Homo sapiens: one gene and its partners. The protein of the gene in region 4 interacts with the protein of the main gene of each other region in a pairwise test. Each region holds a gene or a part of one and is shown on either strand. Other genes may lie near its edges. The genes, in order: DOK6, TENT5D, GSE1 and C1orf94.

The links.
Region 1: the proteins of C1orf94 (region 4) and DOK6 interact in binary tests that used the Homo sapiens proteins (3 or more experiments, as listed by UniProt).
Region 2: the proteins of C1orf94 (region 4) and TENT5D interact in binary tests that used the Homo sapiens proteins (3 or more experiments, as listed by UniProt).
Region 3: the proteins of C1orf94 (region 4) and GSE1 interact in binary tests that used the Homo sapiens proteins (3 or more experiments, as listed by UniProt).

The regions. Positions count from the first base shown.
Region 1 is NC_000018.10:69,403,542-69,411,163, forward strand, and holds part of DOK6 (docking protein 6), read left to right. Parts: intron 1-7,622. UniProt on the Homo sapiens protein: DOK proteins are enzymatically inert adaptor or scaffolding proteins. They provide a docking platform for the assembly of multimolecular signaling complexes. DOK6 promotes Ret-mediated neurite growth. May have a role in brain development and/or maintenance.
Region 2 is NC_000023.11:80,415,223-80,423,782, reverse strand, and holds the start of TENT5D (terminal nucleotidyltransferase 5D), read right to left. Parts: upstream 3,337-8,560; 5' UTR 3,220-3,336; intron 1-3,219. UniProt on the Homo sapiens protein: Catalyzes the transfer of one adenosine molecule from an ATP to an mRNA poly(A) tail bearing a 3'-OH terminal group.
Region 3 is NC_000016.10:85,658,322-85,665,321, reverse strand, and holds part of GSE1 (genetic suppressor element 1), read right to left. Parts: intron 5,945-7,000; exon of another isoform or gene 5,647-5,944; intron 4,177-5,646; coding exon 3,557-4,176; intron 2,342-3,556; coding exon 2,229-2,341; intron 1,979-2,228; coding exon 1,708-1,978; intron 308-1,707; coding exon 194-307; intron 1-193.
Region 4 is NC_000001.11:34,200,657-34,208,278, reverse strand, and holds part of C1orf94 (uncharacterized protein C1orf94), read right to left. Parts: intron 7,508-7,622; coding exon 7,247-7,507; intron 6,196-7,246; coding exon 6,020-6,195; intron 123-6,019; coding exon 45-122; intron 1-44.

The DNA of each region.
Region 1 (7,622 bases), on a different chromosome or scaffold from region 4:
CTTTTGTCCTCCATTTCTACCTGAGAAATGTAAACTTCAAAGTTAGATATTGAAACAGTTTTGTTTTAAATTAAATCAAAATATTAAATTCACCTTGACTATTTTGGGAACTTTTTTTTTAAGTCAGATACTTTTCTATTCAGAATATTCTAATATGCAGAAGAGTGAATTTAAATGGCAAAACTTCACATAGCTGGTTCTGTGAAGCTTACTAAGTTAAGTGAGTCCCATAAGATAGTAAAACTAAGCAAATATTGTGTGCCTTAAAGAGTCATACCCCAAATCATAAAAATTGAAGTTATCCAAACATTAATATTTGCTTTGCATAGTTAATAATACATATTCCTAATTTTATGGACTCAAAACTATGAACTTTTCCAAATAACATATTTTTTAACTCCAAGGACACGATGAGTTTTTGTGATTTATGTCCAAAACTAAATTTCAAAATATAAATAATTATAATTGAACATGCATAGATATTTGATTTATTATGGACAGTACTCATGCTTTCAAAAATCAAAGTCTGTGATATTCTAATGGAGAAAAAAAGGCCTGGATATGAGGCCGATTGCATCAGAGATAATTATTGACATGAAACATAATTTATGATGAAATGTTCTAATGTGCCCTTTGCTCTTCACAGATAAGTGCAATTTTGAATGAGGGCAGTAAGGCATTTCTTGTCCTCTAGGTAGCAAGTCAGCCCTTTCAGAGGGGCTTCCAGGTTTAAGAGGTCAAAAAGGCCCTTGCCCTGTGTCTCACTGGGGAAGCTAGCAACCTGTTGAGTACAGTCCCTTACCCACTGCTTGGGAAAGAAGTAAAATTTAGTAAGCAAGGCATATATAGCAAAATATCCAGTCAGTTTTTGGTTTGCAGCCAAACTAAGAACTCAATCACTGAAAGCATTAATAATCTAACACTTTGTGTATTGACCCTAAATTTATCAGAAATAGATGCAGCTTTGTGGAGTGATCATCATCATCATCACCATCATCACAGTCATTGTCATCAATATCACTGTACAAATTTTAGACTGCTATACCTTGACTTATTCTAGACACAGACCTCACATCATTTTTTTTCAAGGAATTCATTCAAATACATCAACATGACTATTCACAGACACATTGTATGCAGACAAAATAGTGTCTTCTACAGACATTTTACATTTCTTACTCAAACTCAGGTGAGAGATTGGTGTTGATATGTGTGGGTTCTGAAGGAGTGTCTCAGGATAGGGTGGTGTGTGTGTGTGTGTGTGTGTGTGTGTATTCAGGTACACACTCAAGTAATCAAATTATCTTGGAGTGCCCACAGTTTAAGAGGCAGTGTACACTGGTGTTTGTGTGTGTATTACAGAGTCATATTGTGTTAAGCCTGAATTAGTTATAATAAAGAACCCCTGCATCATTGCTACTGAGAGTACATCGGGCCAGTCATTGTCACTTTGCACCAACTTCGCTGTAGGGGAAGCAGGGAAATGTGGAGGGACAGATTGCGAGTTTTGAAGAGCACTAACTTTATGAGCTGAGCACCTATTGAGAATTTTGCTTTTTCATATTTTTGTTTTAACATCTTATTGTGGATTCACCTACCTCTTGCCCTTTCTCCCTTCTTGATTAAAACCTTAAGACACCTCCATTCCTGGCTTAAGGATAATTGATCTCCTTTCTGTAAACACTGTGAGTTTTCCTTTCCTCTCTCAACAGCTTTCCTCGGAGTATTTGTTCATGAGAGATATTTATGAAAATTCACCCTTTTATAGAAGCTCAATGATTAAAATAAATAGAAATAGCTGGACACGGTGGCTCACGCCTGTAATCCTAGCATTTTGGGAGGCTGAGGCAACATGGTGAAACCCCATCTCTACTAAAAATTACAGAAAGTCAGCGGGGTCTGGTGATGTGTGCCTATAGTCCCAGCTACTCAGGAGGCTGAGGTGCGAGAATTGCTTGAACTCGGAAGGTGGAAGTTGCTGTGAGCTGAGATCATGCCTCTGCACTCTAGCCTGGGTGACAAAGCGAAACTCTGTCTCAAAATAACTAACTAAATAAAATAAAATAAAATAAAATAAAATAAAATAAATAGAAATGTGCATATGTGCATTTGTATATTTTGTCCTTTAGACCATTTTACAATTTCTTTCATCTCCAAGTCTGTAAAAACTAGTTTGTAAAGAGAGATTATATCTTGCATGGCATGCATTACCAATTTCCCAAGAATTAGATGCAATAAATATATTTAAGATAAAACATATAAATAACTTAGTCATTCTGACTATTTAAAAATTCTAAAGGAATTTCAGGATCATTACTTTGTATATGAATTTCCAATATATGGATTTATGGTGCAGAAGTTATAATGAGTGTGTTTCAGTCTTTACTTGTCTAGAATATTGTGAATCCTGGACATTGTTTTCTGAAATGGATCTGTGGTATCTATGTTTATTTATCATTTGTATATTTATCATTTCTCATTAAATACTAATTTAGCAGATGACAATTTCAATTATTTGAACTCTATTTGATTCTAGATTTTTATTCATGGTGACAATTATGCATATTCCTTACGCTGTGTGTAGATTTGCCACTTACTTCTGTATCTATACATATTCCTGCAAATAATGCTAGTTCTTAGAATTTTCCAGTAAGCAAAGATCTTATATATCTTCTACCCAATCCCTATATTTTGCATTATCTTCAACTGCATGTTCGTGTGTATGACATCTGATGTATGCTTAGAAACTCTATCTCTATTGGCAATTTTTTTCCTTTTAAAAACATCCCTCTGTCTGCATATGAACATGTCCAAAGTTCTTTGAATTTCAAAAATTAAGCCAAAGACAATGAAAATTAAGGTAATTTTTACAGTAAAAACCAAATACAGACATTGTGGCTGGATTTTGCTATTAAATTATTATGCCTATGTAAGACCTGGGAGAGGTGGGTAAATCAGAGAGAGTTATCAAGATTCACATCTCAGTTTTTATCTTGATAGATTTACAGATGACTGCTGGCAAGGTGAACTTTAAAAATGGCATTCCTTTTCTTAGAAAACAAAGATAATACTCAGTACTTAAAGAGATCTTTCAAATGACTGAAATTAATAGATAGTGAGCAGGGAAGTGCTACAGTGGTCAAATATCTTTCTACGATCTACATTCCCAGTTTCCTTAAATGTCTTTCAAACACGCACAGTAATGGTGAATATTTTGGATCAGTATAAAATAGAATACGGAATAAAAAATTAGTTTAGGCTGGGTGCGGTGGCTCACACCTGTAATCTCAACATTTTGGGAGGCCGAGGCTGGCGGATCACCTGAGGTCAGGAGTTTGAGAGCAGCCTGGCCAACATTGTGAAACCTCGTCTCTACTAAAAATACAAAAATTAGCGGGGTGCAGAGGCCAGCGCCTGTAATTCCAGCTACTCAGGAGGCTGAGGCAGGAGAATCGCTTGAACTCGAGAGGTGGAGGTTGCAGTGCACTGAGATCGTGCCACTGCACTCCAGTCTGGGCAACAAGAGCGAAACTCCATCTAAAAAAAAATAGTTTACTATGAAGCATATATATTTGACATAAATGTCATCTTTTCAAAGTATTTTTATTAGTTAGCATTGCCCTCTTTGGATCATAAACCATGTAGAAACTGTTGAGTAGGACAATTAAGTATTTGTATCTTTGGACTGTTTCTATTTACATCAATTTTAGAAACTGTAGAAGATAAAAGGTATGCAATACAAACAAAATTGAAATTATCTGTAGTCCCACCATTTAAAGATAATCTCTAGATTCACATATTTTGAAATGCAGTGCTGGTTTTGAGGAAGACATAATTTCTATTAAATAAGATAAAATAATTAAAAGGGAGCATACTATGATTTCTTTAGCCTCGGTTTTATTACTTGTGCCTCACTTTAGTCACAGTATTTTCTGTTTTTCTTCAAGGTCTTGTAACTTTGTCCACAGAGTCCACAAATTCTAGATAGGGAACATTTTCATTAACTTTCTGCATAAATCCTCTTTAGATTTATTTTAAGATACAGAGCAGTATTATCCTCTAAGTAATTCATTTTTATATTGTTACACTATTACTCAATGAGAATATTGCACCTGTCAGTCAAAGTGGATAGAATAAGTAATGATATTTTGCTATAAGCAAGAGCAGAAATTAATAAAGAAAACTATTGTTTACATGGTACTTGCAATGATTAGTGATGGTTGTAACCTTTCAACATGTGCAAAATATTTTGTCTGCCATTTTCCTGAATTATTTGCAATAATTCTTGGTTAATTTTTATTTTTGGCTTAACAGTAAAATTACTGGGAACAAAGACATATTAATGCTTAGTTTGAGACTTCATAATGGTAACATAATCTCACTACATTTTGTACATATTGTGCATCTCACAACTTGTAAAGACTTATCACACATATTATATAAGTCTTATGGTAGGATTTCAAACATATATTCAATTTTTAACCCCCATTCTGTACATAAACTAGAATCCAAAAGAAGTAAGGCAAATCAGCTGGAGTTATTGAGACACAGCTTGGGTTTGTGTGTTTGTGTCTACAAACCTAGGTTTATAACTTCAAGTTCAGTGTAATAGCTGTTATAGAACAGCCACCACTTTGGAGTATATATAGACAAGTTCAACACAGTCATGTGTACCCTTCAAAGTCAAGATGCTTTCTTTGGTATCTTGGTTTAAAGCTGATACAATCATTCACTGTACTCAATGCTAAGTTATTTAGATTGCAGACAAAAATGCTACTTAGTGAAATAATTTATGTCACAATAAGGAAGTACTATGCAGATACTTGTCCAGGCCACACTGAATTGACACAATTTCATTTTCATTGATGCCAAACACAAATTCACTAACCTCTCCTTTCAAAAAAAAAAAAAAATAGAGCACCTTTCAAAATTTACATGACAGTGTCTGGGTAGAATTTTACAAGTTATTTAAATAGTTAAATATCTTTAGTTTAGCATTACCTTTATTTATGGAAGATGATATTTTATTTAACCTGGCTTTATAAAAGATTATGTTTAAATCAACTTAGTGAAAGGTGAGTTCATTTAAAGAAAACCTAAATACAAAAACTGTACAGATTAATGGGGATCTGACAAATCAAAAGGCAGTATGTGTTGACATAGTCATGCCTCACATAGTATGACAGTGTTAGCTAAATGCCCAGGCATTGACAGTACTCAACCACAGCACGATCTTAACTCAAGAGACTGGATTATTTTGTTTGTTTCTTATTTTTGTTGCTTGCTGCTTTAAAGGGGGCTTAAATCAAAATAGATGTATTTAAATTATGTTCCTTTATTAAAAAACTATTAATTTTTTAAGTTGCCTATATGCCACTCTCTTATTCAAATGTGTACATTTATACATAAAATGTATTACACGTTGATGTGGTTTGGCTGTGTCCCCACCGAAATCTCATTTGAATTGTAGCTCCCATAATCCCCACGTGTCATGGGAGGGACCCGGTGGGAGGTAACTGAATCATGGGAGTGGTTTCTCCCATGCTGTTCTCGAGATAGTGAGTTCTCACAAAATCTGATGATTTTATAAGGGGCTTCCCCCTTCACTGGGTACTCATTCTGTCTCCTGCCGCCCTGTGAAGAGGTGCCTTCCACCATGATTGTAAGTTCCCTGAGGCCTCCCTAGCCATGCAGAACTGTGAGTCAATTAAACCTCTTTCCTTTATAAATTACCCAGTCTCTGGTATGTTCTTACAGCAGCGTGAGAATGGACTAATACACATGTAGAAACGTGTGTAGTAATTTTTTCCTAACGATTTTTCCATTGTAAATATGGAATTGCTTTTTTCTGATTACTCACTACCCTTTGGCATGTTTATGTGTGTATGTATATGTGTGTACACACATATATACATATATAATGTGCTATATATTGAATATGTATGTATTTCCAAATGGCACATTACTACCCATACACATGGAATTGCTATCTTTGCTGAGTGGATAGCAGAATGCACTCCCCACCTCTGCACCAGAAGAAGATGTTCATAAAATGCTTTTGTAGAATACAAGGAAAGTTTTTAATTCTATAAACCATTTTATGTCTACATTGGTCTTTACTTGGAAAAATAGATGCAATATTTGTCTAAAATTGGAAAGTTAGTATTTTTTCCCCAAAACTATAAAAACTATAACTTTAACACCATGGCAACCAGTAAATTTTATATTTATTTTTGTTTACATAATTCTAGTAAATTTTCTCACATGCTATGCAAAAATAAGAGTAAAATTATACTTTTCACATATGTCTCCTTGCTTTGAAAAATATTCCTTTTTGTTTAAACTTACTAGCAAATAGGAATACATTTTCCAGAGTGTTTTAAAGACCGTAGGGTAGTTCTGTAGAAAGCATCCATGTCATTTTACTCTTGCTTTCATAGACTTCACCACATATTTGGAATCCTTAAGTTTTAGCTATATAAGTCTCCTAAACCAAAGTACACCTAGTACCAAGTCATGATACTGAATTTACCTAGAAGCTACCAATTTTATGTATAAGTATGAAATATACTATTCTAGACATTTAAAACTGGACAATTATTTAGCACTGTGAAGTCCACTCAACACATTCCGTTGTTTTCTGATATTTTGAATAATTATCTATATTACCTATCCCTTTATTAAAAAACAATCACTGTCAACCACGACTGCATATAGGAGTGACCTGCAGAACTTGATCCTTCCGCCTGGGCGTTCCTCACTGAATTGGCCTGCCTGGAGTTGAGTGTAGGTTTGCTTTAGAGTTCCCTCAAGTGCTTTTAATGTGACACCAGAGTTGATAATTGTTGCCATCAAATGATACTTTTTTAGGAAACAGAGAAAATATGTAACATGCTAGACTCCTCTAAACTGCGAATTACACTGTTGTTAGTGCGAAGACCTCTGAAATATAAAGTTAATTATCCATTAAATCCTTTATGTAACACTAATTTCCTGACAGTCCATAATGCTTTATAATGTGAACACAGAAGGAATACAACAAAAAATTTCTTCGATGTACAGAAATTGACTTCATAAACAATGTAACGAACGTGAGTAAATCCTTTCTGAGGACTTTCCAGGCTCTCTTGATACATGACTGATGCTTCTACCAGCAATGTGGATGCTCTTGAAAGATTTCAATTGTCTAATTTGTGTATTCTCATCTAAGTAATTAAGATACCACGGCTATTTAAATTGTACTTAATTTAAGACTCACTGAGTTCTGAACAATGCAATCATGATTTTCCCAATGGGAGATTCAGTGCATGAGGCTATATTTTTAAAAAACCAGTAGCTCAGAGTCAGTTTTGTATTCTTCATAAACCTGGGCTCATGGCTGTGAAAGACAGTTGCTACCCTGCAACACCTTGCTCCTGATATCTATGAGGTTTATGTTTTATGTTCTTTTCTTTGTTCTTTGTTTCCTACTTAAAGAGATAGGGCATAGATGGATAGATGGGGGGAGAGAAAATCGAAGCAATATATAGCACATACCTCTCGAGTTCATGCAGATAGTAGGTACCCTTGTGGTTTTTAGAGAAAGTGACCATCAAGCTGACAAGTCGTGAATTAAGAAGTGT
Region 2 (8,560 bases), on a different chromosome or scaffold from region 4:
AAATAGTCTCTTCTCCTTATGTGGGCATGTACATGGGGTGCTCCAGTAGGTTCTGGTGGGCACTTTTTTTTTTTTCTTTTCTAAACATGCTTTAAACCGTAAGCTCGGCCTAAATAAATCATTGCTTCAGCTCCTAATTGGTCCCAGGGCCAAGGTCTTTGGCCAAGCTTTCACTTCAGCTTCTACTAGGTCCTGGGCCAAGCTAGGTAGCCCCAATAAATCATCACTTCAGCTCCTGATTGGTCCCAGACCAAGCTAAATCACACTTTCCTCAAAACAGCCTGCAAACTATGCACATTCCTTCCCATCCCGGTCCATAAAAACCCTGAACCCCGGCCTCATGGTGGGGAACCCCTTTGGGCCCCACTGTCTGCTGCAGAAAGCGTTCTTCTTTTGCTTATTAAACTTTCACTTGAAATTCACCCTTGTGTCCACGCTCCTTAATTCTCTTAAATATAAAAAAAAAACTCTGGATACTATCTCAAACAACAAAATACTGCTACATATTTTGCTTCATTGGGAAAACTACAACAGTAGTACTACTTCCCCTTCCTACTCTTCCTCTGCCCCTTCCAGTGGCTGTAGCTGGTAAAGATTTATAGCTATGTGAATTCAACAGTCACCAAGTGAGCTTCTCTTGCTTCTGATGTAAATGATGCAGAGTTGCTGCCTCTCCAAACTGCCACCAATTTCAGAGAAGCAAGCTGGCCAGAGAAATCTCCAGCCCCTTTTGAAGGGAATCGCTGAGAATACTCTGAAGTACAACAGGCTTTCAAGCAAGCTGGGAGGTAAAGCCACCTAGTGAGACCAAAATGCCATTCTCTCTGCACTGGATGCTGTACAACTCGCCATGACCCTCACAGTAAACCCAGTAACCTCATAAGCTTTATCCACATCATTCCAAATCACTAACCCCTCTGTGGATAACCCTGTCAACACTCAAGGAATTAAGTATTCTCTGAAGGGGACTCCAGAATTATAGCCAACACCATATACATCTTTCACATCCCTCTTAAACACTATCTGAGGAAGGAGAAAAGTAGAAACTCATCCCAATGTTTCTAGAAAAAGCCTTTTACTAACAAAAAAAACCCAAAAAACTTCTGTTCATAGCTCTCCCCGTCTACTCACCGCACCCTCTCAGACATTAAAACTTACCTCACCAACTGCTGCTCTCCTCAAACCCATCCCATCAAGGAGAAAAACTACAGGGGTGTGGTGTTAGCGTGAGGCTCAGGAGGGAGCCTGCTAGTAGGCAAGCAAGAGAAGGGGCCATTAAAGAAAGATAAAATGAAATGCAATTTTTTTTTTGAGACATAGTCTAGCTCTGTTGCCAGGCTGGAGTGTAGTGGCGCGATCTCAGCTCACTGCAATGTCTGCCTACCAGGTTCAAGCGATTCTCCTGCCTCAGCCTCCCGAGTAGCTGGGATTACAGGCATGCGCTGCCATGCCCAGCTAATTTTTGTATTTTTAGTAGAGACGGGGTTTCACCATGTTGGTCAGGATGGTCTTGAACTCCTGACCTCGTGATCCACCCACCTCAGCCCCCCAAAGTGCTGGGATTACAGGCATGAGCCACTGCACCCAGCCATGAAAGGCATTTTTTTAAAGGGAGAGAAATAAAGAAAGAAGGAATCATATGGATTCTACCTACCCTAGGTGGGGTGATCTCTTATTACTTTCCATTCTCCTTCATTGCTGAACTTTCTCCCATGGGATACTACTACCTTTCTCCTTTCCTATACCAAAAACTATTTTCCCTTTTTTTCTTATAAATAATGACTTGCCCCATGAATTCCCAACCTCCCACTCAGTAACCTCCACTTTTTTTCCCACCCCCCGACACACAAATAACTCCTCCTTCTCCTCACATTTCTTCAAGCATTTCCAACACAAATACAAATTTAAGTTCACGCTCAGAAGGCAGTTTTGCTGAAAGACGTGGCATTTTTTTCTAGTCACTTTTTTCCTTAAGTCTCCTTATCATGGGGAAGTCCCCTCCCTCATTTCAACACCTTCTACTCTTAGTTTGGCTACAGATATTCAGGTCCTCATATTTTCTCTCACATCTGCAGTTAATTTTCATAGGAGAAAAAGGGTGAATGATAATGGCATTCTTTAAAGAAACAATTTCAAAATGCAGTCTTTGCTATTTTAAAATACAATTGGCTTAATAAAATCCATTCAGTTTATGATTAATTTGATTATTTTTCTAAACTTTACTTGCATTAAATTGTTCTACTAGAGGAAAATAAGGTAACTTCACTCTTAAGGTACTTAAAAGCTATACAAGTGAGGCCAGGCACGGTGGCTCACGCCTGTAATCCCAACACTTTGGGAGGCCGAGGCGGGTAGATCACGAGGTGAGGAGATCAAGACCATCCTGGCCAACATGGTGAAACCCCGTCTTTACTAAAATACAAAAAAAAATTAGCTGGGTGTGGTGGTGCATGCCTGTAGTCCCAGCTACTCTGGAGGCTGAGGCAGGAGAATCGCTTGAACCTGGGAGGCAGAGATTGCAGTGAGCCGAGATCATGCCACTGCACTCTAGCCTAGTGACAGAGTGAGACCCCATCTAAAAAACAAACAAACAAACAAAAACTATACAAATGAGATAAGACATGAGTGCTTTAAAGGAAAAAAAATAATCTGAAAAGGAAGTTCAGGACTATATAAAAAAAATACAGATATGTAAACATGCTTGATTACCTGACAATAACTTTCTTTCACTGGTATGTAGTAATTAAAAACATTTGATATCAAAAAAGGAATTAGGTATAGTCTTTTAATACTTCACTTCAGAAACAAATTAAAGTTTGAAAATAATCCATCATCAGGCTATTTATTGAGATGTCAATGTGTCAGTCAATTAATGTAGGACGTAGGGAGTTTTGTAACTCTCTTACTCTAGAGTTCTGAAAAAACATAATTCTTAATACTATATCAACGTATCAGTTATGTCTTTTATCTCTTACTCTTGAGCTAGTTCAGAAAATAAAATATTAAAACAATTATTGATGCCCTTTTAAACATATTAACTGAGTTCAGTTTTACCACAGCCATGATTTTGGGCACAGTTATTAATGAAAGAGATAATTTTCAAAGATATTTTAGTTGAATCAAATAAGTTTCTGGACAAAATATAAATTAAACGTCAATTTTGATGTGTGCTCAGAGTTAAAACTAAAAGAAAAACTCCCTTTCTACAAGATTGCTCACCGTGTCTTCTGATAGTAGACTTTGCTGAATTTAACAGTCTTACTCTGAAGACTAACATCCTTTACCAGAGTTCTGCATCACCTGATCTCCACACATTCTCTACACCTCACTTGCTGCAATTCCAGGGTTACTGTTGCCAGGAGACAAGGAATATTATTATTGCATCATTAATGCTCTTATAGATGGGGGAATTTTCAAAAAATAAATTTAAATAGGGCAATTCTGAGTCCCAAATCTCAAAAAAGACAATGTTATACTAGATATATTAAAGATTAAAAACAGGTTCCTCAAGATACTTGAACTTAAGTTAAAAAATAGTGAAGAGGGAGGAAGGAGAAAAAAATAGTGAAAATAACCAGTTAAACCATGCAGATTCACACAGATAGGCAAACATTTTTGTTTTGTAAGTATTGTAACTGCCTACATGTAACTTCAAAATTAAGTTGTAATTTCTGAAATACAGAATTTGGGAAAATATTCTCTATTTAATTTTTACCCCCAAGTGAACATGTTTTTGTTTTAAAAAAAATTCTTAAACAATTAAAAAGAGGCTGGTCATGGTGGCTCATGCCTGTAATCCCAGCAATTTGGAAGGCTGAGGCTGGAGGATTACTTGAGCCCAGGAGTTCAAGACTAGCCTGGGCAAGATAGAGAGACTTCGACTCTATAAAAAATATAAAAAGAAATTAGCTCGGTGTGGGGATGCATATCTGTCATTCCAGCTACTCAGGAGGCTGAGGTAGGAGAATTGCTTGAGCCCAGAAGGTCAAGGCTGAAGTAAGCCATGATCACACCACTGCACTCCAGCCTGAGAAACAGAGCAAGCCTTTGTCTCAAAAAGAAACAGTTAAAAAAGTATTATGGTTGATAAGTATAATTGTTTTGAGTGCCAACAACTAATTTTTAAAAAGAACATTTAAAAGACAGAGTTCTTCTCAAAATAATGTTTTGTTACAGTATGTCCAATTTATAGAAACTATCACATAACTGTTTGAATAAGAATATCAAGATTACAAAGATAGGCAAATAGGTAGATATAGGAAGAAAATTGTCTGGCTAAGCCAGTGATCCATGTGATATTTTTAAGATAGATAATTTATAGCATTTTCCAGTAAAACATAGAAAAGACTAAATACATTTTGGAGGGGCCAAAGGTAAAACAAGATACCTACTCAATGTTTTCCTGGCAGTATAATATATGACAAAGAAATAAATAATTTTTAGTAACATTTAAGACTATAATCCTAATCCTTGTATATAAAGAATGTTACACTGGAGTTTAATTTTAAAGAAAAATATACGTGTACAGTTTCTTAAAGATATGAAAATTACATTACATGATATATATAATACTGAATATAAGTTTTTAATTTTAAACTTTTGAGTGTAGAATTTTTAAACATAATTAAATGGCAATGATAACTAAAAATTATATGATGCTTATAATGTGTCAGGTATTAAGTGCTTTAATTAACTCAATCCTCATTCAAAAGAATGTGAAGAATAGAGGTAGGGTCTATGATCCCATTGAAAAAAATAAAAAACAAATTATGCAAAGAAATTCATGAAAAGAGTAACAGATAAAATGGACATGATGAACAAAGAGTTAGCTAGCTAGGTAGGGGGTGGAGGAGGGGTTTTAAGTAGAATAAGAAATCAGATATTTTGTAGGGTGCCATTTAATATACAAGCAAGGGTTATTGGAAAGAAATCTGAAAATGTCATAAGGCAGTTTCATTAATCAGCAATAATGAATTCTGTAAAGTACTACATGTTTAAAATAAAATACATATATCAGATATAGGTCAAATTCTAAAATAAAATACATATATCAGATATAGGTCAAATTCTCAACTATCTTTTTATAAAGATTTAAAAATATGTCTTTTACCAATATAAAAAGTCAAAACAGTATAATAACAAAGATAGTACAAGTATCAGTGAGAAAGAAGATAGGAGGAAGGAGTTTTGGGAGAAGAAAAGACAAAACAGAAGTCAAAAGACAACTACTGCTAAATAGCTGTTTAGCAATCCAAATATTCTGGTTTCATCCCCATTCATTCCAAAGGTCATAATTCCCAATTTGACCAATAGTGTCATTCTCTTTTGACTCATTTTGGATACATATACTTTTTAAATCAACCAGAGTTTTGGGAGGCTGAAGCAAGAGGATCTGTTGAGGCCAGGAGTTTGAGACCAGTGTGGGCAACATAATGAGACCCTGTCTTTGAAAAAAAATTTAAAAAATTAGTTGGGCATGGTGGCATGAACTGGTAATCCTACCAATTTGGGAGGCTGAGGTAGGATTATCACTTGAGCTCAGGAGTTCGAGGCTGCAGTGAAGCATGACTGCCCCACTGCACTCCAGCCTGGGCAAAAGAGCAAGAACCTGACTCAAAAAAAAATCATTAAAGATCCCTTTTCAAGTAAGAATGATTTTTATGTTACTGAGTGAATTGTGGCATTTTAGGGCAAAAATGAGGAAATAATCTCAGAGCTCAAAGACTGGTTCTCTGAAATAACTCAGTTGGAAAAAAATTTTTAAAAATATTAAAGAAGTATAAATAAAACCTCCAAGAAATACAGGATTATGTAAAGCGACCAAGTCTACACCTGATTGGCACCCTTGAAAGAGAAGGAGAGAAAGCAAACACCTTGGAAAACCTATTTCAGGATATTGTTCATGAACATTTCCCAAGCTCACTAACAAGGCTAACATCTAAATTCAGGAAATGCAGAGAATCCCTGCAAGATAATATACATGATGACCTTACCCAAGACACAAAGTCATCAGATTTTCCAAGGTTGAAATGAAAGAAAAAATGTTAAAGGAAGCTAGAGAAAATGGAGCAGATCACCTACAAAGGGAACTCCATTAGGCTGACAATAGATCTTTCAACAGAAACCCTAAAAGCCAAAAGGCACTGGAGGCTTGTATTCGGCATACTTAAATAAAAGAAATTCAAAGCAAGAATTTCATAGCCAGTCAAACTAAGCTTCATAAGCGAAGGAAAAATAAGATTCTTTTCAGAAAAGCTAATGCTAAAGGAATTTATTACCACCACACCTGCCTTAGAAGAGGTCCTGAAGATAGGGCTAAAAGTGGAAAAAAAAAAAAAAAAACTATTACCAGCCACCACAAATACACACTTAAGCACACAGATGACTGATACAATAAAGCAAACACACAAACAAATCTGCATAATGAATAGCTTATAACATGATGATAGAATGAAATCTGCACATATCAATATTAACCTTGAACATAAAGGCTTAAATGCCTCAAGTAAAAGGTACAAATTGGAAAGTTGGATAAAGAAACAAGATCCAATGGTATGCTGTCCTCAAGAGACCAATCTCACATATAATGACACCCAGACTCAAAGAAAACAGATGAAGAAAAATCTTTCATACAAATGGAAAATAGAAAAAAAAAGCAGGGATTGCTATACTAATTACAGACAGAACAGATTTTAAAGCAACAAAAGTCAAAAAGGAGAAATCAGGAAATGATATAGTAGTAAAGGGTTCAATTCAACAAAAAGACCTAACTATTCTAAAGATATATGCACCCAACACAGGAGCACCCAGATTCATAAGGCAAGTTCTTAAAAACCTATAAAGATACTTAGATAACCACACAATAATAGCAGGAGAGTTCAATGCCCCACTGACAGTATAAGAAAAATCATTGAGGCAGAAAACTAACAAAGTTATTCAGGACCTGAACTCAACACCTGACCAAATTGACCTAATAGACATCTACAGAATTCTCTGAAAAACAAGAGAATATAAATTCACAGCTGCACATGGCACATACTCTAAAATTGACCACACAATCAGCCAAAAAACAATCCTCAGCAAATTCCAGAAAGAAAGAAAGAAAGAAAAATTCATACCAACCACATGTTCAGACCACAGCACCCCCCACCCCAAACAGACATCAATACTAAGAAAATTGCTCAAAACCATACAGTTACATGAAATTCAACCTGTGCCTGGATGACTTCAGGGTAAACGAGGAAATTAAGGCAGAAATCAAGACATTCTTTGAAATTAGTAAGAAAAAAGGGACAACATACCAGAATCCCTGGGACACAACTAAAGCAGTGTTAAAGGGAAGTTTATAACACTAAACGATGACATCAAAACGTTAGGAAGATAAAAAAAAAAAACCAACTAACATAACGTAAAGAGGAAAAATAAAAACAAAAGCAAATTAACCTCCAAACCAGCAGAAGATAATACCATAATCACAGCCGAACTGAAGGAAATTCAGATGCAAAAAAAAAAAAAAAAAAATTCAAAATATCAATGAAGCCAGGAGTTGGTTCTTTGAAAGAATAAATAAGATAGACAACTACCTAGATTAGTAAAGACAAAAGAGAGAATATCCAAATAAACAAAATCAGAAATGACTACAGGGACATTACCACTGACCCAACAGAAATACAAAAAAAAAAGAAAAAAACCTTGAGTACCTCTACACACACAAACTAGAAAACCTAGAATAACTGGATAAATTCCTGTAAACATACAACAACTGAGATTGAACCAGGAATAAACTCAATCCCTGAACAAACCAGTAATGAGTTCTAAAATCAAATCAGTAATAAAAAGCCTAAAAATCAGAAAGTACAAAGACCAGACAGATTCACACTGAATTTTATCAAATGTATAAGGAAGAGCTGGTGCCATTCCCATTGAAACCAGTCCCAAAAACTGAGGAGGAGGTGCTGTTCCCTAACTCATTCTATGAGGCCAACAAGATCTTGATAACCACAAAACGGCAAAGTCAAAACAAAAAAGAAAACTTCAGGCCAATATCCTTAATAAACATGGATGCAAAAATCCTCATGAAAACATCAGCAAACCGTATCAAGCAACACATTAAAAAGTTAATCCATCATGATCAAGTAGGCTTTATCCCTGGGATGTAAGGTTGGTTCAACATATGCAAATCAATAAATGTTCACATAAACAGAACTAAAAACAACAACAACATGAAAATCTCAATAGATGCAGAAAAGGCTTTTGATAAAATTTAACATCCATTTATGTTAAAAAATCTTAATAAACTAGGTATTGAAGGAACATATCTCAAAATAATAACAGCCATATATGACAAACCCAAAGCCAATCATACTTAATGGGCAAAAGCTGGAAGATTTCCCTTGCAAACCAGAACAGGACAGGTATGCCCATTCTCAAGACTCCTATTCAACACAGTACTGGCAGTCCTAGCTAGAAAAATCAGGCAAAACAAACAAACAACAAAAAAATAAAGGGTATCCAAATAGGAAGACAGGAAGTCAAACTATCACTGATTGTTGATTATATT
Region 3 (7,000 bases), on a different chromosome or scaffold from region 4:
CGCCTTCAAACTGACGTTCCGTCCCAATGACTGTCACAACTGTGCAAGAATCGTACGCTGGTACAAGAATGGAAGAAGACAGCCTGCAGGAGGCCACATTCACAATGATGAAGACCTCGAGTGGTCGCCTCTGAGCCTGGGCAGCCCATGGGATGGTCCTGGGTGGTGGCAGGTGGGGCTATCCTTCCCTTACCACTCAGGGAGACGGCAGGACTGTCCCTCGGAGAGTTTGTCAAGGAGTCGGCCACTGCTGCTGACAGTGCCTTCTGCTTCATGGCACGGAGCATTTCAACAAGTCTCTCTTTGTCTATGAGAAAAGCAGCCTGAGATTAACGAGCCAGTTGCATCATTTTTTGGAGAGAAGGACAGCGGGATTCTAGCCGAGCCTTGAGGGGCAGGCAAAGCACTAAAGCCCGAAAAACCAAAAGCAGGTGTGATGGGGCAGGCCCAGTTGAAAGGAAGCAACCATCTCAAAGCGAGCCCAGATTGCTCTCGGCATCCACTACACAATGTCCTAGACGTGCTCCAAAGACAGCTGTCCGTGCGGTGACGACGCCTCTGTGAATCACTGTGCCCACGGACCTCGGTGGTGACGTGCGAGGATGTATTCTTATTTCAAGTCAGACAAGGTGGCCCCAACACAAAGAAACACCCCAAAGACCCAGGCCTGGCCTCTGAGGCAGGGTGCCTTCTCCCCCACTCCTACCATTACTGCCACTTCCTGAAGGGGAAAGATGACCCCACGATGTTCCACGCAGCAGATCCCTGATGTCACCCGGCCCTTCTTGACTGTGAAACTCAAGGGCTGCATCGCCCTTAATTTTTTTTCCTCCAAAAATTCAGGGAAAAAGATGCTTTGTATCTAGGGAACTGGGCTGGCAATCAACACGTCACTAGCCCGCTAAGAGAAAGGGAAAACTACTGACTGGTTAAAAGGAGAAAGTAAACGGCTACACCCTGATCAACACCTTGAAGCTGCTCAAGGTCCAAGAAGTAACTCTGCTTTCCTTCGACTTTCTCCCAGAGAGGAGGCCAGGGGCCCACGAGGACTTGAAAGCGTGCGTAAGGGGCAGGGCCAGGAACGTCAACATCTGGGCACCAAGCCAGCCTGCGCTGCAGGCCAAGGAAGCCAAAACCCTGAGCAGGTGTTGTGGCTGCGTTGTTTCTTCTGCTATATGGATTCGAGCCCAGAGGGTCTGTCCCAATGTGGCCCTGTGTGGCCAGACTGAACTGGAAGCATCTTTCAAGGCAAGCCATCTGCTCAGTGTGTGCTGCCCTGCTTGGCAGCCCTTCCCCAGGCCTCCGGCCACCAGGACACAACACCCAGCAGACCACCTAAGCGGTCCAGCAAGAGGAAAAGCCTGCAGCAGACAAACCTGGAACACCTGGCACCTCCCCTCACGCCTGGTGGTCACTGGAGCACTCGGCTCAAAGAGCGCCTTCTCGGGCGCTGGGAGATGGATGAGTGACATGGGTAGTCCTCAGGTCAAGATGGTGGGGCTCTCAGAGCAAAGCCTGTCAGGTAAGGCTGCTATGGAGGGCTTGTAAGAACAGAGAGGCTGTTCCCGGGAGCCGGGAGGAGTAAAGGGGCAGCCTCAGGCTCAGTGATCGCAGATCCTGCCTGGAGTCCACCGGCCCCACCTGCTGCTTCAGAAACCCACTTCCACCCCAGTGAGCCCCCACCTTCCTACCCAGGCGAGGCCCTACCTTTCCTCTTCTCAGCGCTGATGTGGGTCAGGTTGAAGATGGTCAGGAACTTCTTCTTTTCTTCGAAGTTGGGACTGTTGTTCATCTCATCAGGGCTGTAGCGGGTAGACAGCGCCAGTCTCGGTGAAGGCGTCTGCCGCTTGCTCTGAATTGTTGGGGGCGACGGGCTTCTCTCTCGCAGCATCCTCCGCCGCTTCCTCCGCTTCTGGGCCACCAATTCCTCCTTCTGCTGTTGGGTGGTCAAGCCAAAAAGTTGCAAAAACTCTAGCTTCTAGATTGGGAAAGAAAACAAATGAGTTTGAAGCCACTGGCAGTGGTATGCTTGCACTGTCCCGGGGTCCCCTCCTGGGGTCCTCGAAGTGTGGGCCGTAGCTGGCTGCGCCTGGTGGGAGAAGAGCTTCATGGGGCGAACCCGCCAGGACTTCGGAGGAACCTAGCAACAGTGGGGTGGACTGCAGGGTGTGGACGCTAGGAACGAGAGCCCAGCCCAGAGCATGTCCGTGGGGAGGAGAGCCCAGTACCTCAGAGGACGTGTCCAGTTTGAGGGGCGGCTGCTCGGCCACGCAACGGAGGTGGGCCCTGACCTCCTCCTCATCGCTCTCGTCGTAAGAGTCATCGAGGTCGTAGTAGTACCCTGATGGAGAAATGGTTGTATTCAGCCAGACAAAGAGCCTTCATCTGTCCAGTGGACATGCCCGCAGGGCCTCATGTGTGCAGAGCACCTATCAGGCCAGGCCTGCTGGCACCTGAACACCCTGAAGGCCAGTTCCTTTCAACCGAGGTGGAAACCAACATTAACCCAGTCCTGGGGCTTTGCAGGACCGCAGACACCAGGCTTCCCTGGGATCCATGGCTCCCAGTAGCTGGGTGGTCCCCTGGGCTGACAAGACCTCCCTCCTCCCCCTGGCAGGGAACCATTCATCACACAGGCCTGGGGCTGTGTCCACGGCAACACAGGGCTGCTTGTGCACATGCACTCCCCCATGCTGTGGCCATCTGAGTCCATCTCCTGGGAGGAGACAGGCACACACAGGCCTGAGCTCTCTAAGACACAGAGAACAATAGCAGAGCCCCTGCCCAGGGGCGCTGGGGTATCTCCCTCCTCCTTTACAAAGTGAGTAGGGGAGAGAAATTTGGCTGGGCCCTCCATCCAGCCTAGACCAACAACCAGGAAGACCGCCTGTGCCCCAGCTTCTATTGAAGAGGAGGCTGAGCTCAGCACTGGACAGGACCTGAGTGTTCAGCATCAGGAAGAAAACTGGGCTGGAGCCCCTGCTCCCCTCTGCACACTCTCGCCTGCTCGGTTGCTCTTCCTGGCTCTCTGGAGAACTCAGGGAGCCGCTGGCTGAGGACGCCCCACCCCCAAGCAGAAATAAGAATGAAGTGCCTGACCTCCTACCCTGACCCGGGGCAGTGCCAGCCGCCGCGTCCTCAACCCCTGACCCACCTGCTGCAGCTCGTGGCAGCGGCCCTGTATGTGGAGCCCCCGCTGAGCCCAGGCCGGCTCTCCTGTTATGCTGCACTATTAATATTTAAAACTATCTTATTAGCCTCCGCTCATCACTTATTCATCATGCTTGTCTGCGGAACTATCTTCACAGGCGGGCTTTGATTTGGCTTTTTGGGACAATTTGCATCGAGGCAGGACAGGCACGGGGACTAGGGTCTGCCTCCCCTACGAGGGTGTCATGCTGCTACAAAGAAGCCAGTGCACTTGCCACCTGGGGCCTGGGACTACCCCAGGCAAAAAGCAGGAGTGGACGGAGAGGGGCAGGTGGCTGGCATGCAGGCTCCCCATCCCCACTGTGCGGCTCTCCCTGAGCAGCTCGGGGCCCGCGGGGAGGCAGACCTTTCTCCTGGGCCTCCCGCCGCCTGCGCTCCTCCAGGTCCAGCTTGCTGACCAGCCTCCGGCGCTGCTGCAGGAACTCATCATAGATGTAGGCAGGGTCGGGGGCCCGTGGCACTGGGGGCCGGTAGGGCGAGCCAGGCTTCAGGGGTCCGCTGAGCTCCCCGAAGGTGGCCGCCTGTGGGAGGGAGGCCCGCTGCTGGCCCAGGATGGTCTGGGTGGACTTCTCGAGCTCAGCCAGGAAGGGCCCGGGCCCGGGCAGGAAGGGCTGGTGCTCCAGGCTCCCTCCCTCTCGTGGTGGCGGCGGAGGTGGCTGGTACTTGTCCAGAGGGGCAGGCTCACGCTTCCGTGGCCCCTCCTCTGCTTTCTCCGGGCAGAAGACCCGCTCCACCTTCACCAGCGGCACGGCTGCCTGGCGGCTGGGCTCAAATGCAGCCGGGTGGCTGTGCAGAGAGTGGCTTTCGGCCCGCCGCGTCTCCAAGGTGTTGTCCATCAGGGACACGGGGTTCCAGAGGGCCGTGGGTGCAGCATGGAGCTGGGGCTTGGGCGAAATCAGAGGTGGTGGCCCCCCAAAGTGCTGCGGAGGGTCACGGCCACCTGGCTCGTGACGGTTTGGTCCTGGCCTAGGGAGTGAAACCAACCCTTCAGTCAGGGAGAAAAGACCCTTCAGTCATCCACAGGCTTCCCTGGCTGCCTGCCGCTCCTAAGATGACACAGATGGCGCAGCCCCTTAGAGAGCCAGTGCCAACAGGGCTGCAGGGAGGGGACACACACTCCACCCCAAGGATCATTGTTTCTGTCTTTCATTTTCTCTTTTCCTTTCTTTTCTTTAAAGACTCGGCCGGGCGCAGTGGCTCATCCCTGTAATCCCAGCACTTTGGGAGGCCGAGGAGGGTGGATCACAAGGTCAGCAGTTTGAGACCAGCCTGGCCAACATGGTGAAACCCCATCTCTACTAAAAAATACAAAAATTAGCCAGGCATGGTGGCGGGTGCCTGTAATCCCAGCTACTCCAGAGGCTGAGGCAGGAGAACTGCTTGAACCCAGGAGGCAGACGTTGCAGTGAGCTGAGACCGTGCCATTGCACTCCAGCCTAGGCGACAGAGCAAGACTCCGTCTCAAAAAAAACAAAAAAAAAGACTCACTCTGTCACCCAGGCAGGAGTGCAGTGGGGCAAGCTCAGCTCACTGCAACCTCCGCCTACCAGGTTCAAGCGCTTCTCCAGCTTCAGCCTCCCGAGTAGCTGGGATTACAGGCGTGTGCCACCATGCCCAGCTACTAATTTTTCCTATTTAGTAGAGATAGGGTTTCACCAAGTTGGCCAGACTGCTCTCGAATTCCTGACCTCAAGTGATCCACCTGCCTTGGCCTCCCGAAGTGCTGGGATTACAGGAGTGAGCCACTGTGCCCGGCCCTCCAACACCTGCGGCAGGTGTGTGCAGGCTGCTCCAAGAGGATAGGGAGGCTCCCAGCCTAAGCTGCTAGGGAAGGCAGAGACCCTCTCAGGCCTGGGACAGATCCAGTTTCGGTCGATTTTCCCACCTGCTTGCGTGAATTCCCCTAAGGGCAAGCGCTCATCCGCACTTTCCATGGGGAAACCCACTCTATATACTGGGCTGTGGCCCTGCCACCAGCACCCTCTCCTCCTGCTGTGCCTTGTAGGGACACATGACACAGGGCAGGCTGGCCACCTTCACAGGGCAGTACTCCTCCCTCCCCACTGTCCCCGCAGGCAGCCACAAGACAACCTTCCAGTGTCTGCCCAGCCAGAGCCAAACCCACTGTGAAATGAAGATCCTCCCAGTCAGGATGGGGCCTGTGCCGAGACTGCCCCCCAGTGGCCCCTGTCACAACTGCAGCGACCCCACTGCCCAAGTGGCCTGTGGCAGAGGCCTCAAAGTGTCTTCAAGGACCCAGGCTAAGGCCTGCTGAGGCAGGGAGGGAAAGAAGGGATTTCTAACATCAGAACCCTTCCATTAAACAAGAAGCTGCCCCTTAGTTACACTAAATGGCTTGTTTCCTCAGTGCAATTAAAACAAGATTTAATCTACTCACAGGGCTATTTTTAGTATTGTTTTTCCAGCTTATTTTTAAGAGATGGGTCTCGCTGTGTTACCCAGGCTGGAGTGCAGTGGCTATTTACAGGAGCAATCCCACTACTGATCAGCGCGGGAGTTTTGACATGCTCCATTTCCGACCTGCCCTGGTTCACCCCTCCTTAGGCAACCTGGTGGTCCCCCGCTCCCAGGAGGTCACCATATTTGTGCTGGACTTAGCTGGGACACCTAGTGGGTATAGTACACTACAGCCGAGAACTCCCGGGCTCAAGCGATCATCCCATCTCAGCCTCCAGAGTAGTTGGGCCTACAGGCATGTGTCACTGTGCCTGGCTATCTTTCTTTTTTTTAAAGGGAGATATACTCACAGGATGTCTGGACCAATACTGTGCAGAGACCCTGGGCAAAGCTTGAGGGGAAGAAAGAGGCAGAGGCCACAGCAGGCACACGGCCGGGCTCAGGGATCTCTAGCCTGCCCCGGGAGCCCTGTTTAAACACAGCCACCAAGGCTCTCCCTAGTTATTCCAGACTCCAGGCCAAGGGACAAATCCGACGCTGCTGTCCCTCTTAGCAGAATACAACAGGGAACCACAGGAAGAAGCTGTGTCCTTAAGTAAACAGCAAGGGAATGAAACCTGCAGGAGAATAAATATTTCATGCGCCACACCAAGCACTGAACAGTTTTCTAGCTTGGAGCATGAGGGCCCTGTCAGGCCCCCAAGTTCACAATGCTGTAAGGCCACGTGTGCAGCCGGCCACAGGGGAACCACCGCAGCCAGGGGAGGCCAGGCCCTGCTTCCCATCATGCCCCAGGTCCGGATGGGGCAGCTACACTGGCTGGAAGCAGTCCATGGGTGGGCAAAGTCACAACACCTGTGCTGGGGCCCTGGGGAGCCCTGAGGAAGAAGATGCCTACAGGAGTCAGGGCACCCTGATGTTATCAGGCCATGCCAGGTAGGAGCTGGCTGCCCTCAGTCCTCTGGGTAGTAGGCAAGGCTGAGCCTGAGAGGCCTCAGGGACGGGGGCTGGGAGAGGCAGAAGGGATCTCACTTCGGCCGTGCCGGGCAGTGTGAGCCACAGGGAGACTTAGCTGTGGCCTGGTGACAGTCACTCCCAGTCATCCCTGATCAGCGGGGGCGCATTCCCTCGCTGCCCTACTGGATAACGGAGGCAGGCAGAAGGGAGGACAGATTTTAAACCACCAACACGCTTCCGTCCCAGAGCCCAAGGGTTTCTTATCCCAGGACAGCATCACAGCCTTGAGAGCTGGAAAGATGCTCAGAAATCATCCTACCCACCCTCCTTTGTGGACAGTTGAGGAAAGTGAGGCTCAGGGAACAGAATCAGTGTCCCTAGGTCCCTGAGCTGGGCCTGGAGCAGAGCTATGGAA
Region 4 (7,622 bases):
GCCTTCATGGACCCAGGACAGAGGAGGAGAGATCGTCTACTCACCTGTTGGGAGTAACATCCCAGCTGCGGGTGCAAAGCCTGCTGATAGGGCATCCTCGCTGCCTGCTGTGGGTACAGGCCCTGGGGAGAAACAGAGGCTCAGTATGGCCAGGCAAGGGGTTTCCTGCCAGAAGGCATCAGCTACTCAGCTCAGTTCCCAGACAGGACTGAGTTTGTCCCATCACATTGCTGACCAGACCCATGGGCTGTCTGAGGCCAGCTGGAACCAGGCCAGGAGAAGCAGGACTCACATCACACAGGAAGCCCCTCTTAGGCAGCCTTCACAGCCTTTCTGATGAGTGTGGGAGACAGGAGCTTCAGGAGCCTGACTGCCTCCCGAGTCCCAGATCTGTGTTTTAGTGGCTGTGTGACCTTGGGCAAATCACATCTCTGAGCCTCTTTTTCCTTCTCTAAAAAATTGCATGTGCTCAGGCCTGCAAAGCCTATGAAGGTAGCCACATTATCTTTGTTGCTGTCCACACAACTTTTCTAAATGCCTTCCCCTAATCCCATACCTGCCCCCTGAAGACACAAGGTGTCTATGCACGTCTCTACGTGTGTGTGTTGGTTTGCATCCATGTTAAATACACCTGCATGTGTGTTTACATTTGTGTCTATGCAGCTGTGTATTTCTGTGTACAAATATACAACTGTGAACCCAGGTGTGTTAGTGTTGCTGTGTATCTATGTGCCCATCCATATACCTGTGTCTGTAGCTTACGGAGAGGGGCACTGTGAGGGTGAAAGTGTTAATACATCTAAAGAGCTTAGAACAGTGCCCTGCACATAGTAAGGACTCAATGTTCAGTGTGTTTGTCATCCATCACTGCCTCCTCCCTTAAACAGCTTTCTGGCAGTTCAGCCAGATGGGAAATTGACATTTTACTCACAATTCTGTCTTGAGGTGCTCATGTGTCCACACACAGACGTAAGACACACACACACACACACACACACACACACACACACACACACCCCGCAGAACTGCTGCTGTGGCAGTGGTCAGTTCTAGTCTCAGACTCTGCCTCCACCTGTCAATCCCGAGTTTTCCCTTAAGATGAGGCTCAAAACCCAAAGTACCCCTCAGCCCAGGACATCTTCTCAGAAGATCTGCTGCCCGAGAGGCTGCCTCCATTCTCAGCTCAGCTTGTGCCAATGACCAAAGTGTTGATGATGGCTGACCCTACACCCTTGAGGGTTCCCTCATGGCCTGTGGACTTTCTGATATGGAGTCTGCAAGTAGGTCTCCCTGCTCTCCTCCTGCTCCATCTTCCAGGTCCCCAAGAGTGTACCTCTTCTCAGAGCCCCTCCTTGCTCTCTGCTCCCATGCAGGGGACACTCCTGACATTCCCATGCTCAGGCCCCTCCCACTTTTGTCCACTCCTTCACCTGAAACCACTCACCTGCTCCCCTTTACTCCAAGCTCTACAGCCCAGGGCAGCCTCTCTCTCCTGTTATGACCACTGCCCGGTCCCTGCAACCCCAGCCTCTGCCTGAACCTGGACAGAGCAGTGAGACTGATGGTGTTGCCTTACCTGTTCTCAGCCCTCCATGAGCTCCAAGGCCACTAGGCATGTTGCTAAGTGTCCCTCCTCTGTTTCGCCGCCTCCTCTGATCCCTGTTAGCACTCATCTCTGCTTTCTACAGGCAGTCGTGCGCCTGCCTGTTTCTGTTTCTATGTGTGTGCATCAAACATGCATGGATATCGTTTGTGTGCAATTGTGTGTGTGCACGGCATCATACACAAAGATCTCTGCTGGGAGCATTCCATGTCACCATTTTTGAGACTCATCGTACCCTCTTAGAGGGTGACCAGAGCTATGCCTCCAGACCGCAGAGCCTAAGTTGCAGCAGCTGAGCTTCCCTATGGGAATCTTTCATCTTCCCTCTGCCTCTTTTTCATCATCTTCTCCCTCAGGTACAGCACTGAGCAGTCTCCAGAATGCCCAGCATGGGCCATGCCATCCACCCCTCACAGGAGCCCATACAGTAGGGACAGCAGAGGGCTTAAGCTGGTGGCCCTGGTCCTCCTGGGAGCACCAGGGAGGAAGGTGCCCCTTGCTTTCTACAGCCAACTTCCCCAGCCTCCACCATCCCACACCTGCTTGTGCCAGGCTGCCCTAGGCTCTGTGGATGGCAAACAGCTGCCCACCGCTGCTCAGTCCCAGGGCGGATTCTCAGGAGATGGTGCCACACTCATGAGTTAGAAAACACTGCATGACTTCAACAACATTTCTAGTTGTTAGAATTGCAAGTTTGTAACATCACAGGCAAGGGTAAATAAACATTCACTGTTCTTTGCTTAAGCCATGGTCCCTTCCCACGCACCCTCCCTCCTTCATTGGGAGCAGAGTTCCTTTATGCCAAGTAGCCCAGGAGCCTCTGAAGCTCCTCGGTGTTGGGGACTTTGTCTTTCACATCTCTGAGTCCTCCTACCACAGAGCTCTGAGTAAATTGGATTTGGGACCTTATCTTTATTCCCAGTGCTAAACAGGGAAAAGACCAGGCTAGACTGTTCCCCATTTCTCCTCTCTGTCCCCTCAAGGTCTGTGGAGCTCTCTGACCCCATTTCCTTGGAAGATTGAGGCTGAATAATAATAAAAACCAACATCTGTGTCACAGCTTAAATTTTACAGAGTCTTTACCCTTCCATGGACTCAATTAATCCTTACAACCATATCAGTAGCTACTGCTGCTGCTGCTGCAATTATTATGAACCCATTTCACAAATGAGGAACCATGGCTCTGAGCAGCTAACCAGCCTAAGGCCTAACTTGGAAGCAGCAGAACCTTTAAAGTCAAGTCTACTGGTTTCAAAACCTGCCTGCTATTATCTCAGGCCCCTTGATCAGCTATGTTGAAGCTGGACAGCATTGTGAGATCACAGAAGCTGGGAGAAGGTAAATTATGCTGTCCTTCCTTATTACCTGGGAGGACCAATGCCTTCCACAGCCAACTTCAGCTGGGCCCATTCAGTGCTTAAACTGTCTCAAAGAACCCAGCAGGCCTTACCAGCCAGGGTCCTTCTGCTGCTTCTGCTCAGAAGCCCAGGAACCTCATAGTCAGCCCTATGATGCTAAAGACAGAGGACCGTCATGCTCAGAAAATGATATGTCCAAATCTCACCCACTCCAAAAAGTCAGAAGAAATTAACATAGCAAAGAGATGCTATCCCCACTTAATAAAGCAAACCATTGCAAATTAGTTTTACACGGTGAGCTCTGTGAGGGCATTTTAGAGTGAATCGACTTGTACTAAATGAATTATGCAGTTGTTTCCCCTTTAGAGGTGGAGATGCATAGAGCTGATCTCTGGTTTATTCCTGAACTTGCATTAGACTCCAAGCTTTTCTTAGTCATCATTTTTTTTTTTTAGAGACAGGGTTTCACTATATTGTTCAGGCTAGTCTTGAACACCTGAGCTCAAGCAATTCTCCTATCTCAGCCTCTGGTGTAGGCTGGGACTCCAGGCACATGCCACCACACCTGACTTTAGTCATCTTTGAATCCCTCCACCTAGAACAATGCTCAGCCTCTAGTAGGCTTGTAGGGAGAAATGGTTTTCAAAATTACTTAAATTAATGAGTAAATAAATACATAGAAATGAGTAAATCGTGAGTAGGTGAGTAAATGAATAGTGAATAGGCACACAAAAATGAAAGGGTAGAATCATATTGGTAAAGGAGTCAGCGAATCAATGAACAGGACATTTCAAGACCTGTGTAAGGACAATAGACTACTGATATGAACAGGTCCATGACAATAGACTACTAATATGAAACTGGTCCACTTCAGCTTCCTTCTTAGGTCACCTTTCATCACAACCTCTCACCTCCACAATGGGGTGTGAGCTTTCCCTCCCTCGGGAGGGGACGGGTACTTGTTCTCTTTAGCAAACACACACACAAACAAAAAGCTTGAAAACAAAACAGAGAGAGACTTTGCTAAGTTCCTTTAAGATTCAGAAACTAAGCCTGGTGGACCAGCTTGAAGAGTCTTTATATGCAGAAGAGCCAATCCCCTTTCCCAATAGGACATAAGGTTTGTGCTGTGTTGAAAGGGAAAGAATGACATAGGGTTCCTAGGAGTGGAGAGCGGGGAAGGGACATAGCAACAGGACAAGCCGAGTTGGAAGTATTTCCTTCTTTGCTTTCTCACTTCAGGCTGTGCTGGGCCAGGCTGGGGCAGCAAATTGCCAAGGTCCTGAGTGCACAAATTTGAGTTCCTGCCCTTCCCCATACAATGACATACAATTCTGGAGAGAAGCCAGTGCGAGGAACAGAAGACAGAAATCTTAGGCATGGAGAATCTTTCCTGAAAAAATTGAGTTCTACCTAAAGGGACTATTTAAGTTATTGGATTGGGCTAAGGCTTAAACCAGAGTGGACATTTATTTAATTTTTCCCTCCTTCTACCCAGTGGGCGGCAGCTCTTAAGGGATATTAAGTTAAATCGACAAAATAAAGAAACTACATTTTCCCTGCATAAATAAGTTCTGTGAGTAGAATTTCCAGCCCTGCTACAGGTGCTTCACTGTCCCTTTGTGTCTGGCCATTGATTTTCTCCTTTAGCTATGATCCCAAGAACAAGAATGTGTGCCAAGCCACCTTGGTTGGTACAAAGCTAAGACTGCTTGGTGTAGTTTAAGTAAGGTGGCCATATACACTCATTCCACGGTATCCTCAGAGGATTGGTTCCAAGACCACCCTCCCTCCCCTGCCCTGTGGATACCAAAATCTGAGGATGCTCAAGTCCCTGATATAAAATGACATACAAAGATGCTCAAGTCTCTGATATAAAATGGCATTTGAGGGCCGGGTGCGGTGGCTCACCCCTGTACTCCCAGCTCTTTGGGAGGTGGAAGCAGGTGGATCACATGAGGCGGGGAGTTCAAGACCAGCCTGGCCAACATGGTGAAACCCAGTCTCTACTAAAAATACAAAAATTAGCGCACATACCAGTAATCCCAGCTACTTGGGAGGCTGAGGTAGGAGAATCGCTTCAACCTGGGATGCAGAGGTTGCAGTGAGCCAAGGTCATGCCACTGCACTCCAGCCTGGGCGATAGAGTGAGACTCTGTCTCAAATAAAATAAAATGGCATATGAGGATGATCTAGTCCCTGATATACAATGACATATAAAGATGTTCAAGTGCCTGATATAAAATGGCATATGAGGATGCTCAAGTCCCTAATATAAAATGGCATAGTATTTGCATGTAGCTTATGCGCATGCTCCTGTATCCTTTAATCTCTAGATTACTAACAACGCCTAATAATGTACTATGTAAATAGTTATTATACTGTATTATCTTTTACTCGCATTATTTTTTGTTGTTGTATTTTGTTGTTGTTGTTGTTGTTTTCTTCTTCAAGTAGTTTCCATCCAAGATTGGTTGAATCTGTGGATTTGGAACCCATGGATACAGAGGGCTGACTGTAATTTGTTGTCCAAACCAGGACACTTGAGAGTGAAAAGGGATGCCATTCATATTATTCTGGAACAGAAGACCTAAATTGGGACTGTCCCAAATAATCTGGGATATATGTCATCCAACTTCAAAGGAAGTCACAGGAGAGAGGTGGGAAACAAGGACTGTGACATCATCTTCTCCTGGGAGCCCAAGCACTTAACCAGCCACAACTAGCAAAGAGACTCTGCAATAAAGAGCACAGTGTGAACTGGAATTCGGACAATGGAAAGTTAGGACTAAATATACATATGTGTGTGTGTGTGGAGGTGTGCGCACGCATGCACATGAACCAAGGGGTAGATCTGATGTGACTACAATGAAAAAAATAACCAACAAGCTGACAAGTTGACAGCGCCCTTCCATAGCCCCAGCGAAGCCTCTTGCATGTAGGGAAGGGATTCAGAGGAGTCTAAAGACTCTGTGAAATAGACCCCCTGCCAGCCACTCCTTCTCTGTGGCCAAAACCCCCGTGGATGTCCACAGGAGAGCCAGGCCAGCTCACTGACCTGATACTGCAAGAAGGTAGAGTGATTCGTGAACACTGGTGGAGGTGGATAGTTCAGGTTGAGCCAGAGTGGCTGGTTCAGGGTTGCTGAGGTCATGGCTGTAGGAAAGTGTGGAGTGAAAACATTCCCTGTGTACTTCGGGTTGTTCTTGTCAGCAACCGTCACAGGTGCGTTAACTGCAAGTCACAGGAGAGGCAAAGCGGGTCAGTGATGGAGGCAGGGAGAGGCCAGGACACCTTCAGCATCGCAACTTCCTTAGGGATTCACAGTCTCACAGGTCAGGTCCTTTAAGCTCCAAGAGGGTTCTTCAAAGTTCTAGTACATTTCCAACTATAGGTAAACATCATTAGTTCACACCTTGCCAGTTTGGAAGGGATGAAAATCCCAGAAGGTCTGGCTTGGAGCTTTTCTTTCCATCATTCACTAGTAAAGAAGGCAATTTAGCAAGGGAATACAATAAGCCAGATTGCTAGGCCTATATTTCACCTACTTACAAAATGAAATTCTTTCAACTGCTTTGGAAAAATCCAACTTTATGTGAACCATTGCTATGCCATTGGAATTCATCCTTATCAAATGATTAAAGCAGCCCCTCCCTAAGGACATATATTTGGCAACACTAAGAAACTTTCACAGGTTGTTGTATCTATATGGGAATTTTAAAAATTATATTTTAAAACATTAAATAATTCAGCATGCAGTGACTCAAAATTGGTCTAAACAAATGAAGTTAGGTTGAGTTGTTTCAAGATCAGAATCCTGGATTCTTCCTTTCTACAAGATGTTGTGGGGGCTTATAAAATCAGAAATGGGTCCTCAGTTTCCCCTTATTGGCATCCTTTTGGGAAAAGAGGTTTGACTAGAACCCTTGTAGGAAAAGAAAGCGGGAACATAATCTCAATATAGAAATAATCTAAAGCAAGGATCTTTTGTTTTGGCTTGGGCAATTTGAGAGGATATAATACATGCTGGGTCAGGGCTATATTCAGAAGTGACCATTAATAATGCTGACGTGACCCTTGAAAGCCAACTACACTTCTCTAGCAACTGTATTCCCAACAAGGGATATGGGGAGAAAGTCATTGCCCCCATTTTATGGGTTTAAAAACTGACACCTCTAGAAAGGCAGTAGATAAGACAGCCACTTGGTGACAGAGCCACCCTGAAGCCTGTGAGGGTCACTGCAACCCCCTCCCCTCCAATCCCTCCCTGGGTAGGTCAGCTCACATTTCAGCTCCGGCCCATCCACTTCCACTTTGTTTCGAAGTCTCGGCTGCCCGCTTGGGTTCTTGGTGGCCCCAAGGAACTCATAGAGCAAGTTCTTCTCGGCTGGACATGTAGGTTTCTTGGGCGGCAGGGTCAGTGATGCGGTGCCCACTGCGTCACAGCAACCCTCCTCACCACAGGCGTCCTTCTGGCTCTGGGGCCACTGGCTGAGAAAGAGGCTCCCTTGACCCTTTTTTGGCTCCTTGGTGCCAGGGCTCCATTCTGTAGCAGGAAAGAAACTGAGTCAATGCCTCTGGAAGGCCAAGTGCTGGATGCTGGAAGCACCTTTTTGTGGACTAAATGATGAATCCTCTGCAGCACACACCTGAGGCTTGGA